2 separate regions of the Homo sapiens genome follow, and region 1 is linked to region 2. The links come from fine-mapping of genetic effects on gene expression. Tissue or cell type: sigmoid colon. Region 2 holds a variant in brackets; the other region holds the start of a gene. All regions are shown on one strand. Distances are from middle to middle.

Evidence for each region. PIP is the estimated chance that this variant, and not a neighbour inherited with it, causes the effect.
Region 1: it holds the start of FREM1, and the variant in region 2 is fine-mapped to the expression of FREM1 in sigmoid colon (GTEx, PIP above 0.99).

What each region holds. Positions count from the first base shown.
Region 1 is chr9:14,907,095-14,915,203 of GRCh38, reverse strand. It overlaps FREM1 (FRAS1 related extracellular matrix 1), which reads left to right and starts at 4,776. Exons shown (of 37, transcript NM_001379081.2): 1 at 4,776-5,290. RefSeq lists enhancers at 6,011-6,512, 7,462-8,002.
Region 2 is chr9:14,841,822-14,849,930 of GRCh38, reverse strand. FREM1 (FRAS1 related extracellular matrix 1) reads left to right here. Exons shown (of 37, transcript NM_001379081.2): 7 at 1,158-1,266; 8 at 3,840-3,971; 9 at 7,271-7,615. Among named protein-coding and RNA genes, the nearest start is that of FREM1, 65 kb to the left of the region's middle. The variant A/G (reference allele first, on the strand shown) is at 5,037.

The DNA of each region.
Region 1 (8,109 bases), 65 kb before region 2:
TACAATGGCAAAGAATGTCAGGTATAAGACTTTTTGTACACATATGAGAATCTAAGTGTAACTCTAGAAGTTAAAATGCCTAATTTAAGGTTTTTGGAATATTTACTTTTACTAGAAATGGTCAGACTACTTTCTAAGTGTTTGTGTCTATTTAAAACTTCCAGTAGCAACTAAGAGTTTTCCCCCCGCTTATCTTTTACCAGATTTAATTTATTTAATTTACCAGATTTAATTTATTGTAAGATTTTAAACGTTTTATTTATCTGAGAGAGTCTCATTTTTAGTCTCCATTTGTACTGGCCTGATTGTTTGTGTAATTGGATGCTTTCATGTATTTATTAGCCATTTGTGTGTCTTCTCCTTTAATAAAAGGAGAATATTAAGATTTTTTTCTTAATGATTTGTATAGGCTTCAGAAGCTTCTTTAAATTTTGAGCATAAAGATTTTGTAATTTATTTTCATTTTCAGTACCTTCTCCCAATTTCTGTTTTTTTTTTTAAAAAAAAACTTTTAAGTTTTTGCTCCATGGGAAATTTTAATTATTATATAAAATATATCAAGTTTTTCTTTTATAGCCTTTACTTATTGTATCACACTTAAGAAATTTTCCCTTGATATTAAGAAGATATTCCTTGATTTTTTTGGTTCCAAAAGTTAAAGGCTTTGTTATCAAATTAAGATACTCAAATCAACTGCAATTTGTTTTGGTGTATAGTATGAGGTAAAGATCTAATGTTTTTTGATATATGATATGAAGTAGAGTTCTGATGCTATGTTTTCCATATGGATAACCTATTGTCCTGTCAACGTATTATTGATTGTCTATTATTTCTTCACTGACTTCTATTCTGACCTTGGTCATACACCAGGTTGCTATATGTGAGTGACCTGCTTCCAAGCTTTTCTAGACTCTTTCTTTGCCTTCTATCACTGTGAAAATTCCACAATTTCTTAATTGTTAAAACTTTATAATATAAAATATCAATATTTAGCAGGGAAATTAATCATTAAATGTATCTTCTTCAATTTGTCTTGGCCATTCCTGGTTTTTATTCTTTTAGATAAATTTTAGTATCAGCTTGTCATTTTATATATATATATATATATATATATATATATATATATACACACACACACATACACACACACACACAAAATATATACAAATATATAAATACATATAATTTATATATTTCATAGTATATATAATATACATATATAACATATATGTACATAATGTGTATATGTGTACACATATTTATATAAAATGCCTTGTTGGCATTCCAATTGACACTGCATTGAAATTTTAATTTTGGGAGAATTGACATTTTTACATTATTAAGTCTTCTCAACCAGTTTGATATTATCTTCCCATTTATCTAGATTTTTTATGCCCTTTATTAATTTTTTATTTTCTTCATGAAATTTTACCCAAATTTAATTAATTTAGATGAATTACCAGGCTCATTAAAGTTTTGCTGCTATTATAAAAGCTGTCTTTTAAAAAGTATTTTCAGTAATTAGTTGTTACTTGTATATATGAACGCCATCTATTTTTGTATGTTGACCTTATGTCCAACAAACTTGCTGAACTCTTTGAATAGTTCAAACAGTAAATTCTTTTGCATATTTGTACAGAGACTCTTATCTTTTGCAAATAATGAAAGGTTTATTTTTCCTTTTAAATTTTTATGCCTCATTTTTTTATCTTGACTTACTGTGTTGGTTAGGATCTCCTATCCAATGTTGAATTGTGGAGATTGGAGTAAGATGTCTTTAATTGGATTTAGGAACTTCCCTTCCAGACCTAGTTGGCTAATAGTTTTCAGTTTTTGGTTTTTTAATGAATGAGTATTAAATTTTACTGAATGTCTTTTTTCTGCACTTATTAAGATAGTCATGCCTTTTTTCCTTCTTTAATATATTAAACTGCTAGATGTTCTGATTTTGAAACATCCTTGCAATCCTGAAAGAAAAATTCATCGCTATTGGTCATGTTGTCTTTTAAAAAGCAGAGCTGAATTTGATTTGTAAATTAGTTATTTAGGATTTTGCATTCATGTTGACAGTCAAATTGGCCGGTAGCGCTCTCATGGCAAGCAGAGCACGCTGCTCTTGTGCCCTGCTCAGGGGTGGTTTTATTTCCTGATAACCCCTAATCACGTTGTCAGCTCCCAAGTCTGAGGTCAGCAAGGCTCTTCCTATAAACCCTCTCATCGGCTGTGTTATTGCTCTTTTCTGGTACACAGAGGTGTTTGTATTGCTTTTCTTTATTTATTTGTTTTCATGTTTATTATTTCAATTGTGGTATGTATAACCTTTCTATTCCTGGACTCATCCTCTTCTCTTGCCATAGTATTGCTTCCCATGGCCATCTAGTGTTAGAGACTCAGTGGAAAACTATCTTTACGTTGCAATAGATAACACTTCTGTCTGCTGCCATCGTCAAAATTTAATAGGCACATTCCTAATTTTTTATATGAATTGTTGGTGAAGGCATTGGCTATGCCTTTCAGAGAATGCTACATTCTACAGCAATTCAACAAAAATCATTCATATTTACAATCCAAAATGATATGCCAATCTCCAACACACATTTGATATTTTTCATTATCACTCCAACTAGGGCTAGAAGTAAAATGATTTCTTTAAAAATGAATTTTGTGCCAGCACTAAGTTCAGCAGCACATGCTTTTAGGGGAAGAATTCTTTGTTGTTTCTTTGACTAGTTCTTTTTAAATTCCCTAGCTTGGCATTTCAATCTGTTCAAACAGTATTTTATTGATTGAAGTTGATAATTGTATTATTTCCAGGCCCTTATTCATTTGTGGCAGATAGAAGGAATGACATTTGTATAAACAGGTACTTCAGATTTCAGGACATTTTGACTGATCTAACTCTTAACTGCCTATTTCAGAATATGTTCAGCACAGTTAGGCCAAGCTTCATGTATATAATTAACTTTGGAAAGATTATATCTCCTGCGGACTTTTTGAAATACTTTACAATCTAAGTTTGTTATTTTTTGCTTAGCATGCTTAAGTTATTTTTCCCATAGAAGTGATATAAAGACATTTATCTCTGTTTCTAGACTAATCTGTAAACCTTATTTAGCTCTTAATCTATCTATAAACTTTATAATCTATCTATAAACTAATCTATAAACCTTATTAGTTTCTAGACTAATCTATAAACCTTATTTAGATGTTAGAATAAGCATGTTGATGCAACCGTTTGTACATAGTATACAATTCCTTTGTCAAATGGAATCCGAGTCTCAACTAACAGCTTCTAAAACCATCTTCATTTCTTTGCAGGTAAGATATTCACAACCTGGGCAATTTTGAAAATCAGTTGGGGAATAAAATTGTCTATTATGCTGTGTTTCTTAACTGTCATTATTAAGGCTTTATTTCTTGCCTTTTCAGGATTAATATATGACTCACACATTGTCACTATATTTATTTAATAATAACTGTGTTTAGTAAATAATATCTGTTCACTTATAAAGAGCTTAGTGATTCTTAACTTTCACCTACTTATTCTCAGAGCAAATAAAATGAATCAAGAAATTCTTGAAGATTTGAAATCTCCGATGACTTTGAGTAAGTGTATATGCACCATTCATTGCTAAAGTAACCACAAAGCATGTTTTTAAAATACATAATTTTTTTCTCCCTTCTTATGCATTCTTTTCTTCTTTACATTTTTCTCTTTTCTTTCTTCCTTCCTCATGTAATTTTCTTCTCCTTTTTCATTTTCCTCTCTCTTTTCCTTATGGCTTCCAAAGAAAGGCATATGGTGTTGTGACCTTGTTACGGGAAACCACATCTAGGTTGAATTGGATTCACAGTGTTCTATATTTTTGGCAAAGGTTTAGGATAGCCAGACATGTCTTAATATAAACAGTTCCCCCAAAGTGAGTTAATACTTCAAATTCTCTCTTTATGGTTAATTTAGAAGGCCAGATGGTAGGCCATTATCTTTTTTTTTCCTGGTGGGAATAAAATACAGGAAAGCATTTTATTAAACAGTTGTTAAGGATTAAGACTTTCACAGACCACTGAATACTGACAAGTTAACTATGTGAATCTCTGTTGAGAGGACAGTTCTTGGCCAGTGATATATCTGCATTATTGGGATCACGCACTATATGCAAATGGATCAGATTAATGGGATTTTTATGGGTTTTCGAAAAGAGCCAGACACACAAAAAGCCTTACAAATGGAAGAACTAAGGTGGTACTTAAAAACAGCACCTTAGGATCTAGTTCCATCCTATCTTTTCCCTTAAATGCCATGACAAAAGTTAAAACGGGCCCTGTCCCTTCTGAATGCTGGGCTTCTCATCTAAATTTAAATAAAAACCTTTGAAGATGGGAATGTGTTGGAAGAAAAGAAGGGCAGAAAAAAAGTGTGTTGGAAGAGTCTGTGTGAGTATGTACATGTGTGGGTGTGGGCATGTGCGGCCTGTGCGTATGTGTGTGCCCCCGTGTGTGTGTGGAGCATGCGTGAGAATGCATGCACATGTGTGGGGTGGGTCACTATGTGTGCATGCATGTGAAGGCATTTGCCTGTGTATGTGTCTGTGTGTGGTGATTGTGTGTCTATCGTGTTTGTATGTGTGCCTGTGTGTGTACCTCTGTGAGTGGGTGTGTCTGTATGTGACTGTGTGCCCATTTGTGAATGTGTGTGTGCCTGTGTCTGAGTGTGTGTGTGCCTGTGTGCTGCAGGCGGGAGAGGCTGCTCTGGCTCGGCGAGTGGCGGAGCAGTTAGTACAAAACTAGTAGTGAGAAAGGAAGCTGGGAAGAGACTGGGAAGAGGCAACCGACCTCATTAACAAAAGCTCAGTTTTGTCCCTGCGGACCCAACCAGCAGAAGGCACGGGGCTAGCGGTGGCTGTCCGCCAGGGAGGTCGGGCTCTGTGTAAACAGTAGAAGGCATCTTTATCATGCCCTTCTCACAGGGAGTCCTGAGGCTTGGCGCTCAGGAAGTTTGCAAAGCTGCAGCAGCTGCCTTGGAGAAGACCAGCAAAGAAAGTGGAGTGTGTATGTGAACTTCAATTCTGTATTTTCTGTGAGGTGGGTTAATGGATTTTTAGTAAAAAGAAATCTCAAACACAGCTGACCTGAAAGACTGGAATTTCAGCTCTCTTCCTTCCCGGGGTTCTTTTTCCTCCCCCTTCCTCTCAAAGCCCTTTAAACCAGATTGCTGTGTCAGTGACTCTTATCCTGCCCGCCAGTTCCAAGGGTTTCTAACTTTTTGTCTTGGAAAGGAAAACCACTACCTGTAAGTATCTGTTTTATGTGTTTCTTTTCATTGTGACTGTGAATGTTCTGTTAGCAGAATGCCCCAGAGATTGTTTGTGTGATATCATTAATGCCAAGTAACAATGCAAAGCATCTGCAAGAGTAGGCTTGCAAAAGTTTAACTCTCCTGTTAACTCAGAAGATGGCAACTTGCAGTGTTAACAAACCAAATGCCAAAACTGAGATTCTTTTTATTACGTGACACAAATTTCTAACTCTTCTCAGTCCATCCGTGCTGGCACTTGCCAATGAAATAACCATTTTTTAACTGTGTAATTGTTTCCTCTGAAATTAGAATGTTTCTTCTCAGCTAAATGAAATGGCAAAGGGAAAAGACACAAAAATGAACAGAACAGATAATATCCTCATGGTACAAACATAGAGAAATTTGGATGAGATAATGTCTGGATACCTTTGCTTAAGTTTAGTTATATTTGGAGACATATTTTCAAAAACATGATTTCTGTTTCATTGTGGGGAAGAGAGATAGTGCTGGGGAGGCAAAGAAATGGCCTTGTTCTGAAGTTTTTGGACTGATTTTTAGGCTCTCTCTGCTCAGTACTGAGATTTGGTCCAGAGACTTTGGTGCTGTTGTAAAGAGTTTCTTTTCATTTTATTTTGAAATCCAGGAAACAATTTTTGGCTTATGGAAATTGTTTATTGTTTTTAAGGTATTTAATTTTAGTTTCTGATTTTTTTTTAAACTATTGCACCCAGTCTTGTTGCTTGGTGTGCATTACAAAGCTTAAAAAGAGCATTTCTGGGAGCCAATTGGTGTTTATAGCCTGGGAATCTTACTGGAGAGATTAACCTCTGTGGTGCTGCTTCACAGAACAGAGCTAGTGATTCGAATGCTCTTCAGGTTTCTGCTCTGGAAAACTGACACCCGCTGTTCCTGACTCTAGGTAAAGCTTGAAGAGCTGTGCCTCAGCCCCCTGCTTACATTTGATAAAGGTGCCTTCAGTGCAGCTCTAGGAAACTTTGCTGTTTCTCTCCATCAGGCATTCTCAAAACTGACTGTGTGTAAGAACCCCCATTTGCTTGGTGAAAGGCAGGTTCTCAGTTCCCAGGCCCAAAGGATTTTAGACCTGGAGTGGTGCCAGGAATCTTCCCAGGTGATTCTGAAGCAGGTGGGTCACACTTGGGTAAACATTGCTCTACATTGTCCTTGACATGAAATTCTTGTCATGTACTTGGTTAATATTAAACCTTATATCTAAATAAGAAACCTGAGTTTGAGCTGTTGTTGAGCATAACTTAATGTGCAACATGGTTTTGCATGCTTGGCTGGCAAACCAGGGCTTTTTAATCAGTTTTCCACCAACCTCATCTTTTTTTTTTCTTGCTTCCCTTTTCATCTCTGCCTTTTCATTCCCACGAGGGAAAAAAGGAGTTGGGCAAAGGGACCTGACTACCATGTTCCCTGCTTTCACATGTTGGGCTATATGGCCTGATCTGCCCCCGCATGGCTAAGCAATGTTTGTTTTGGAAACTTTAAACCCAGGACTGTTCTTAATTCTTTCCCAGCCTCCTGGGGCTGCTGGGCTGTAGGGGTTGGGCGAGGCTGAGTTTGGGTAAACTGAGCTTGATTTCATGGAATGGTTCAGGAGCCTCATTCCTAGAAAATGATTTTTGGATTGGACCATCCCACAGGGATGAGAAGAAACAGAAAATGATTCTTCCATGGTGTTAAAATTCTCATTTCACAATATGTGAAAGTCAGAGCTCAGCTTCCATCCCCATCCTTGCATTTTCTGGCGTTTAATATTTATATTAAAAAGAAAACTGGACATGGCCATCAGAGCCCCTTGCTTTCTTTTCTTTCCTCATTCCAAACATTTAGGTGCACCTGCTACATGCCAGGCTCTGTGATAGTTTTTAAGGATTTCAGAATGCCCACTGGGGATGGCATGCACAGGCAGGGTCCTTGTCCTCATGGTGTTTCAAATCTTAGTTGTTGCTAACCAGCCTTGGAAGAGCCATCTAACCCCTCAAAGCTTCACTTCCTCATCAGTAAAATAAGTTGAATTAAATGAGTTTTGGTATCTTCCTAGCTCTGATATTCTGACATTGATGGATATGACTCAGTCTTCTAAACACAGATATGGGCTATGAGAGCTTTTCAGCATTTACTCTGAGAATAGGCCTAAAGATTTCGCTAATTGCTTTTCTTCAAAAATTTTCAGATGTATTTTTTTCTCTCACAAAGCACCATGACCACAGGAATATTGAGTTAGACAAGTGTAATCTTTTCAGGGCATGTAGCCATTCCTTACAATGGGATCCCGTAACTCCCTGGAAAGGCTGTTTCCCTGCGCCAGGTTACATAGGAGGGCAGCCTCTTATCTTGTCTGAATCTGATGTCGCTACTCCTTTGGAGAGCTGGGTGGTCTGAACAGGGCTTGACAGCTTCCACACATGCACAGCTTGCAACCTGACCCTTTCATTCAAGTGATTCAACAGCTTTTGTGCTACCAGGTGAGAGGCTTAAACAGACATCTTTGAGGGGCCGAGCGAAACAAAAAACAAAGCAAAACCCACTCCCTAATGAAATACTGTCTATACTATATTTTGTCTGTAATGCAGCTTCTCTCACTGCAGTGACTGGGGCACCATTTCAAAGGGCTCTAAAACTTGGCCATCAAGATAAGAAATTATAGGTGTGATTTATGTGCTTTTTGACAACATAGCCTCTAGCTGTCTGAAGATAATATGTTTGAGTGGAAAACTATTGACTGGAGGACAGGGATCTTGCTAAGTTAGAATATTTTTAAACAAATGTTCTTTGCCTCTCATGGG
Region 2 (8,109 bases):
TGGCCCCCCATGCCTTCCCTGTTAGGAAGTAATTTCTCATTGCACATCCAATCTTAGAGCACTGCTTTTCTGGCCTCTTCCTGTGTGTAGTTTCTGGCATTGTATAATGTACTCTTAAAGCAGAACCTGTGCGAATGTGTGATTTTTTTCGTTAGACAGTAACTCTCAATTTTTTCAGTGGAGATCACACAGTTTTCAGGTTGTGTGGACTGGAAGCCCTGGGCCAGGGCCCAACCGAATGCATTACCCCTCCAAAAAAGACACCTCCTGCCCATGTAGTTTCCTGTTCAGTCTGTTGCTTTGGCAGCCTTGAATCAGTTTCTTTTGTTATTTAGTGTTTGCTGATATAGTGCTGTTTGATTATTTATCTTATCCTCTTCCATGGACCACATGTTCTTCAAAAGTAGGGAGTATGCCTTGCATTTCTGTGTTATACCTCATTCTTCTCTGTCAACATCTGGTGCAATACATACACAGCACATAATAAAGATCAAAACTTATCACGCAGCCCCTACTTACTTATTAGTTATGAATTTCATGAAAGCAAATAAAGTTGAGATATTTAAAAATATGTCTAGTGAAATACATGTCTCTAGATCAGGGTTTCTTGATAGTAGCAGTACGACAATTGCCATTTTGTATCAGATAATTCTTTGTTTGGGAGGTTGTCCTGTGTACGGTAGGATGTTAGTATCCTGGCCTCTACCCACTCGATGACAATAGCATTTTCCCACACACCGACTTCTGAAATTAAAAATGCCTCCAGACATTCCCAAAAGTCCTGTAGTGGGACAACATCACCCCTAGTTGAAAACCACTTCTCTAGATCCTCCACCTTTGAGAAAGATTTAAGTGACTGAATGTGGGAAGGGGTTGGTCTCCTAAGCAAGTGCAGAGACACTTCTCCAGCATATTACCAATTTTAGATTAATAAATTCTTTTATGTAGAAGAAAATTTAAAAATACCGTTAAAGTAAGGAACAAGATCTAGAACCTGAAAAAGTCAAATCAGGATGTCTAAATGAGATGTGGGAACTGCAGAAATGTGAATCCCCGCAGAAAACTGAATCCACTGTGTGTGGGTATAACCCAGAATTAATGCTACTTTACCCTGTAACGCTTCAGTGTGTGGCTCCTTTGCCTCTGTTTGTTTACAGGTAGAATTGGAGGTATACGACTTCTTCTTTGAAAGGAGTGCACCTATGACAGTCCACATCTCCATCAGAACAGCAGATACAAATGCCCCCCGTGTATCCTGGAATACAGGTAAAGCTCAATATAAGGCATAGAGCAACATAGCCCTGAAGGGAATACAAGAAAGTAGATGGGTCAGGAAAGAAAGGTAGTTTTATTCCTATGTCATACATGTGGCAACTGAAACCCAGACAGATTAAGGGCATCACATAGTAGCTTTTGTTGTTGTTTTTTTATTCCTCCTGGCAGCGTGAGAAATTTAAATCCAGGATTTCTGCGTCCTGAGGCCAAGTTCTTTCCTCTGCCGGAGATAAGACAAAGGGACACTTTTCAACTGAATGAAGCAAAAAACTGACTATTTGTGATATTGAGCTGTAGTGGGACTGAAATCTCCAACTCAAATTGTTCCAAGGGATTGGAGAAAGGTTTAGCTTTTATAATCTATAGTCTATTTTTATGTTGGGCTGCATGGAAACTAAAATATGTAAATAAGAGCTTTAACTGCTTTAAAATATGGCTTTCTATGCCTCTCAATTCTGAGTGGACTTATGTGATATATATATGTATATGTTGATCAGATGTAAATGTGGAATGTAAATGGAGATCTTTTCCTTCTCACTGATCCCATCAATACCATTTGAAACATACTTATAAGCAGTGGTGGTAGATAGTATTAAGGAAAAAATATCTGTGTCTGATTTAAATCCTCAGGTGGCAGCTTAAACGAGCTGCCTCGTGTGTGTACACATAGATATGTGTTTGTATGTGTGTGAGTTTCAGCAGAGATAGAGAACATCAGGTGAGCAGCCTTGATTTATAATTCTGGCTATACATCCTACTGTACCTCTGTCAAGGGGGTAATGAGAGAAAAGATGGAATCAGTAACCTAAAGTTTAGGAATAATCACATGTTGCATGGGCTCCTGCCTGAGTGTAGAGATGGAATAGTCTGTACGTGTATGTGTGATCGGTGACACCCAGGTTTGCTCAATGTCATTTTGGCTGCTTTGAACATCAGAATCCCTTTTAAAATAAATGTTTGCTTATTATGAACTTGATCTGTGCCATCGTTGAAATTTGGAGAATGCATCTAAAATTATTATTTCGCCGTGAAGATATAACCAATGTTAATATTTTGCTGTATATATTTCTAGGCTTCTCGATTGTTCCTCTGCTGTGCTCCGTGATGCCTTGTCCTATGCACTCCTGGCTTCCAAACCCTTATTGCCAGTCACAGAGATTCTTCTTATGCACTTCTGTCCATTTCTTCTCCCTCCCACCCTCCCTCCCTCCCTCCCTCCCTCCCTCCCTTCCTTCCTTCCTTCCTTCCTTCCTTCTTTTTCTCTCTCCCTCTCCTTTATATATGTATTAGCCCAATTTCCCTAGAAAACAGACCCCGAGGCAGATCAGATGTACTAACCCTATACTAAAAGCAAGAGTAAGGGGAGAAGCAAATAAAAACGCATGGCTGAGCTGGTGTCACAGCTTTACAATAAGATAAAGCAGATTGCTCTGCAGTGTTGATGTCTCCAGGGAGAAGATGCAACTGCTGTGTCTGGTAAGAGTTGGAAGTGGGGTTGGGAAAAGGTCAACAATCTATTAATGGTCAGTTATTTCCCATCTCCTGTGTTTAATGGGTTAAAGTTTACTTCACTGGCTGTTAACTCCCCACATGCCCAGATTGTGTTATCTGGCCCCTCTTAGCAGCCATTGCACACACTTCCTGGGTCCCCTGGTGCAGGGCCTGATCAGCCACAAGGTTGGTCCTGCCGCCACTAGAGGGCAGTGGAGGTAGCCGGCTGCATCAGAAGATGAGGCAGTGGTGGCAGGAGGGCTTTACAATTTTGGAGACTGGGAACCCTCATGGGGCGGCTGCAGCTAGAGAACAGTCAGTTGGTCGAGGCCGGGATGGCAGGTGAAGCTGGCAGATGTGAGAGAAGCATAAGATAAGTCCAGCAGCACGCTACCTTGCAATTCGACCAGCTTGCTCTGCTCCCTTTCAGGATTATCTGTAATCTGTTGTAATATTGGAGTTAATAGTACTAAAAATAAAAATAGTACTAAAAATAAAAGCTACATTCCAGTTTCTTGAAAAGCTTTTATAGATGCAATATTCAGATGGTTTCATGAGTGGAAATTCACTCATCTTTTCTTAAGCAGGCACGTTGGCATGTCATAGAACTTGCCAATACCCTTTTCTTATCTTTTTTTAAAAAATTTAAGTTCTGGGGTATATGTGCTGAACGTGTAGGTTTGTTACATAGGTATACATGTGCCATGGTGGTTTGCTGCATCTATCAACCTGTCATCTAGGTTTTAAGCCCCTCATGCATTAGATATTTGTCCTAATGCTCTTTCTCCCCTTTCCCCTCTACCCCCGAACAGGCTCTGGTGTGTGATGTTCCCCTCCCTGTGTCCATGTGTTCTCATTGTTCAGCTCCCACTTATGAGTGAGAGCATGTGGTGTTTGGTTTTCTGTTCCTGTGTTAGTTTGCTGAGGATGATGGTTTCCAGTTTCATCCATGTCCCTGCAAAGGGCATGAACTCATTATTTTTTATGGCTGCATAGTATTCCATGGTGTATATGTGCCTCATTTTCTTTATCCAGTCTATGATACCAACACCCTTTTCTCCTTTCTTTCATAGGTCTGAGTCTCCTTGAGGGGCAGTCTCGAGCCATCACTTGGGAACAGTTTCAGGTTGTCGACAATGACGACATTGGTGCTGTCCGGCTAGTCACCGTTGGTGGCCTGCAGCATGGATGGCTGACTTTAAGAGGTGAATGATCCAACTTGGTAACCTAGCAAAGAATCCAAAAGTATTTTCTTCAAAAGTAGATATATTTAACAGATATATGTAGCATCTCTTGGGCCCAATTTCTCAATGAAATTGTCAAATGCAGAAAATCTGGAGATCTTGAAATCATTGACTTTTGTGTTCAAATGCTCAGATCAATGTCTAACCATTTATGAATGGTACCTTGTACGTGGCTCATTGTTTAAACCTCAGTTTTGCTTTCTGGATGCCATGCATGGCTTCTTGTAAGTATACTCCTTAACTAGTTATTTTTTTCCCAGTTGGAGGACAGAATGTTTTTTATTTCTCTGCTTCAAAGAAGTATATTGAAAAATTAGGCCGAGCGCAGTGGCTCACGCCTGTAATCCCAACATTTTGGGAGGCCAAGGTGGGTGGATCACCTGAGGTCAGGAGTTCAAGACCAGCCTGACCAATATGGTAAAACTCCGTCTCTACTGAAAATACAAAAATTAGCCGGGCATGGTGGCGGGCGCCTGTAGTCCCAACTACTTGGGAGGCTGAGACAGGAGAATTGCTTGAACCTGGGCGGCAGAGGTTGCAGTGAGCCAAGATCACGCCACTGCACTCCAGCCTGGGTGACAAAGCAAGATTCCATCTCAAAAAAAAGAAAAAAGAAAAAGAAAAATTAATGCTTAATTAATACTTTAGTAATAATGATGTTATGTTATTAGTAGTAGTTGTCATGGTTTAAAAGAAATAAATTTATAATTCTATGGGATGATAGTTAACAAGGTAATAATCTAATAAAAGTAATATTTACACTTTATGATAAAATAAGTCATTCCTTATAATGAACTCAGAGGATTTAATTCAATTATCTTCTTAGTTTCCCTAACTGTAATGCAGAAAGATAACTCTCACCATCATTTGTGAGCAGGGAATTCTGGAATCAAAAACAAAATAATAAATGTATGATAAATCCTCCTGCTTAATCTCAGGACAGTGGGAGGCCAGTTTAAATCTGGGTATACCAGTCAGGTTGGGTGTTCGCTTGTATGTAAGAGAAATCCAAGTGTAGTGGCTTGA[A/G]AATTAGTTATTTTCTTCATGTATTTGAGGCTTGAAGACCCAGAAGGAACAATGAAAGAAGTCATGATCTAAGTTTGCTGTATCTAACAAGTTTTCCTAGGAGCACAATACAACAATTTCCACTTAGATTTCTTTATCAAACTATGTCACATACAACTCCTCAGTGCAAGCAAGTCGGGAAGCCTGAGTATTTTTAAATGACCATATTGCTATGCCAAATACAACTAGGATTCTGGTAGTGAGGAAGAAGCATAAAGTGGATCTTGGTCAAGACAGTGTTAAATCGTTTATTCCTCTAAGGTCTTTAACACAGCCACGTGGTGTGAAGAGAATAATGGGGTGCACCTGCCATTAAGAATTGTAAGTCTCTGGCCGGGCACAGTGGCTCACACCTGTAATCCCAGCACTTTGGGAGGCCGAGACCGGCAGATCACTTGAGGTCAGGAGTTCAAGACCAGCCTGGCCGACATGGTGAAACCCCATCTCTACTAAAAACATAAAAATAGCCCGGCATGGTGGTGCGTGCCTGTAGCCCCAGCTACTCAGGAGGCTGAGGCAAGAGAATCGTTTGAACCCGGGAGGTGGAGGTTGCAGTGAGCTGAGATCACGCCACTGCACTCCAGCCTGGGCGACAGAGGGAGACTCCGTCTAAAGAAAAAAAAAAAAAAAGGAAGAGTTGTAAGTATCTGAAGAAAACAAAGCAATGTTTATTAATACTACAGCAATGAAATGGAGAGTGGGAGACCATAATGCATTGATGGTCTGGGTTCAGAGGAGACACAAAATAGTGTGATCATTTATTAAGCTTTACTTTGTGACAGACACTGTAGAAAGCATTCTGTATACTTTAACTTGTTATCTCATATCAACTTTATGATATTAGATACTATTATTATTCCCATTTTACAAATGGGTAACCTGAGACTTAGAACAACTGATTTATCTAAGGTTGCACACCTAGAAAATGGCAGAACTGGGATTTGAACCCAGACTGTTAGATATTAGAGCTCTAGCTCTTGGTCTTTGAGCCAGTAATTTTCAAATAGGCTTGATAACACTGGTTGTTGCCTCCCTCCCACCCACCCCTGAATTTCTGATTCAGCAGGTCCAGGGTAAGGCTTGAGAATTTGCATTTCTAAAACTTTCCAGATGGTACTGAGGCTGCTGGTTTGAGACCACTCCTCTAAGAACTGCTGCCATGTAAGATGGTAGCAATTAGCTGAAGAATAACCAACATTTATTGTAGGCTTACTGTTGCTTAAGTTCTCTCATTCTTGCTGTGGATTATGAGGTAAGTATTTGTATTAGTAAGGGTTCCCTAGAGAAATGAAACCAACAGAATGTCTATCTATGTATGTATGTATCTATCTGCCTACCTACCTACCTACCTACCTACCTATCTATCTATGAGGTGATTTATTCTGGGAATTGGCTTATGTAATTGCGGAGGCTGAGAGGTTCCTTGTTAGGCTGTTGGAGAACCAGGAAAGCCCAGGAAGTCATGGGTATTAGTCTGAAGGCCCGAGAACCAGGGAAGCTGATGGTGTAACCCAGTCCAAAGCCAAAGGCTTGAGAAGATGGGCAAGGGGAGTGGAGAGGGGTGAGTGGGGTAGGGAAGGTGGAGGGTGGAGGCACAAATGAGGGTGTTAGAGGATGGCTGGTTTATGTTCCAGAGTTCAAAGGCCCAAGAGCCAGGAGCTCCAGTGTCAGAGGGAAGAAGATGGAAGGAAGTCTCAGCTCCAGAAGAGACAGAGCATTCCCCTTTCCTCTTCCTTTTTGTTCTATTCAGTCTATCAATGGATTGGATGATGCCTGCCCACAATGATGAATGTGATCTTTTCTCAGTCTGCTGATTCGAATGCTAATCACTTCAAGAAACACTGCTTCACAGAACCACCCAGCAATAATATTTTACCAGTTGTCTGGGCATTCCTTAGCCCAGTTAAGTTGATGGAAAAAGTTAAAACCATCACAGTAGTATTATCCATGTTTTATAGATGAGTTTCATAAATTAAATACCTTGCTCAAATCTGCACAACTGATAAATGTTGGAGCCAGTATTCAAAACTAGATATGTTCTCCCAGAACCCACTAACAATCTGTAGTTTTTCCAGGTGAGGGAAATACGGGCTGCACACTTTCCTTAGCAGCCTCTACTGTATTGATGCTTTCCCCACAGCTGCTGCTTCTGCACTCCCTTGCTCAATCTGCTCCATCTCTGCTCTCTCCCTCAGGGGGGAAAGGGTTTCTCTTCACCGTGGCTGACCTCCAGGCTGGAGTTGTTCGCTATCATCATGATGACAGCGACTCCACCAAAGACTTCGTGGTCTTCCGGATATTTGATGGCCATCACAGCATCCGTCACAAATTCCCCATCAACGTCTTGCCCAAAGATGATAGTCCCCCGTTCCTCATAACCAATGTTGTGATTGAACTGGAGGAGGGGCAGACCATCCTGATCCAGGGATCCATGCTGCGAGCTTCAGATGTGGACGCCAGTGATGACTACATCTTCTTCAATATCACAAAGCCTCCACAGGCTGGGGAGATCATGAAGAAGCCAGGGCCAGGACTGATAGGTAAGTTCTGGGCAGTTAAGATCATTTGAATGGAATTCACTCTTCCATAGAGAACCTTCTATGCATCCTTCTGGGTTTGCTGAAATTGTGTCCGAGTTTGTCCTAAGGTGAACATCAAGTTTCTGAAGTAAGATAGTATTTTTATTCCCATTTCATAATGAGGAAGCCTGAGATTTAGGAAAGTTAATTTGATCTGTCCAAGGTTGTGCATCTACAGATTTCCAGAGCTGAGCCTCAAAGTAACCATTACACTATGAAAAATTAAGTCAGCCGAGCAAGGTGATAGAACAAATTAGTCTAAAAGGAGATTTTTTGACTATTCTAGATTATTGATAATTTCATGAATAACATTTGTTTACATTTTGTTAGAATCATTTTGTAACTACTTCTTAAAGTAGGTAGATCCGGAGTTTGACAAAATAGGGATCAAGTAAGTAGTTAGTGTTACTTTGTATATTTGAAATAAGAGTAAGTTTCTTGAAAATATTTTTCTA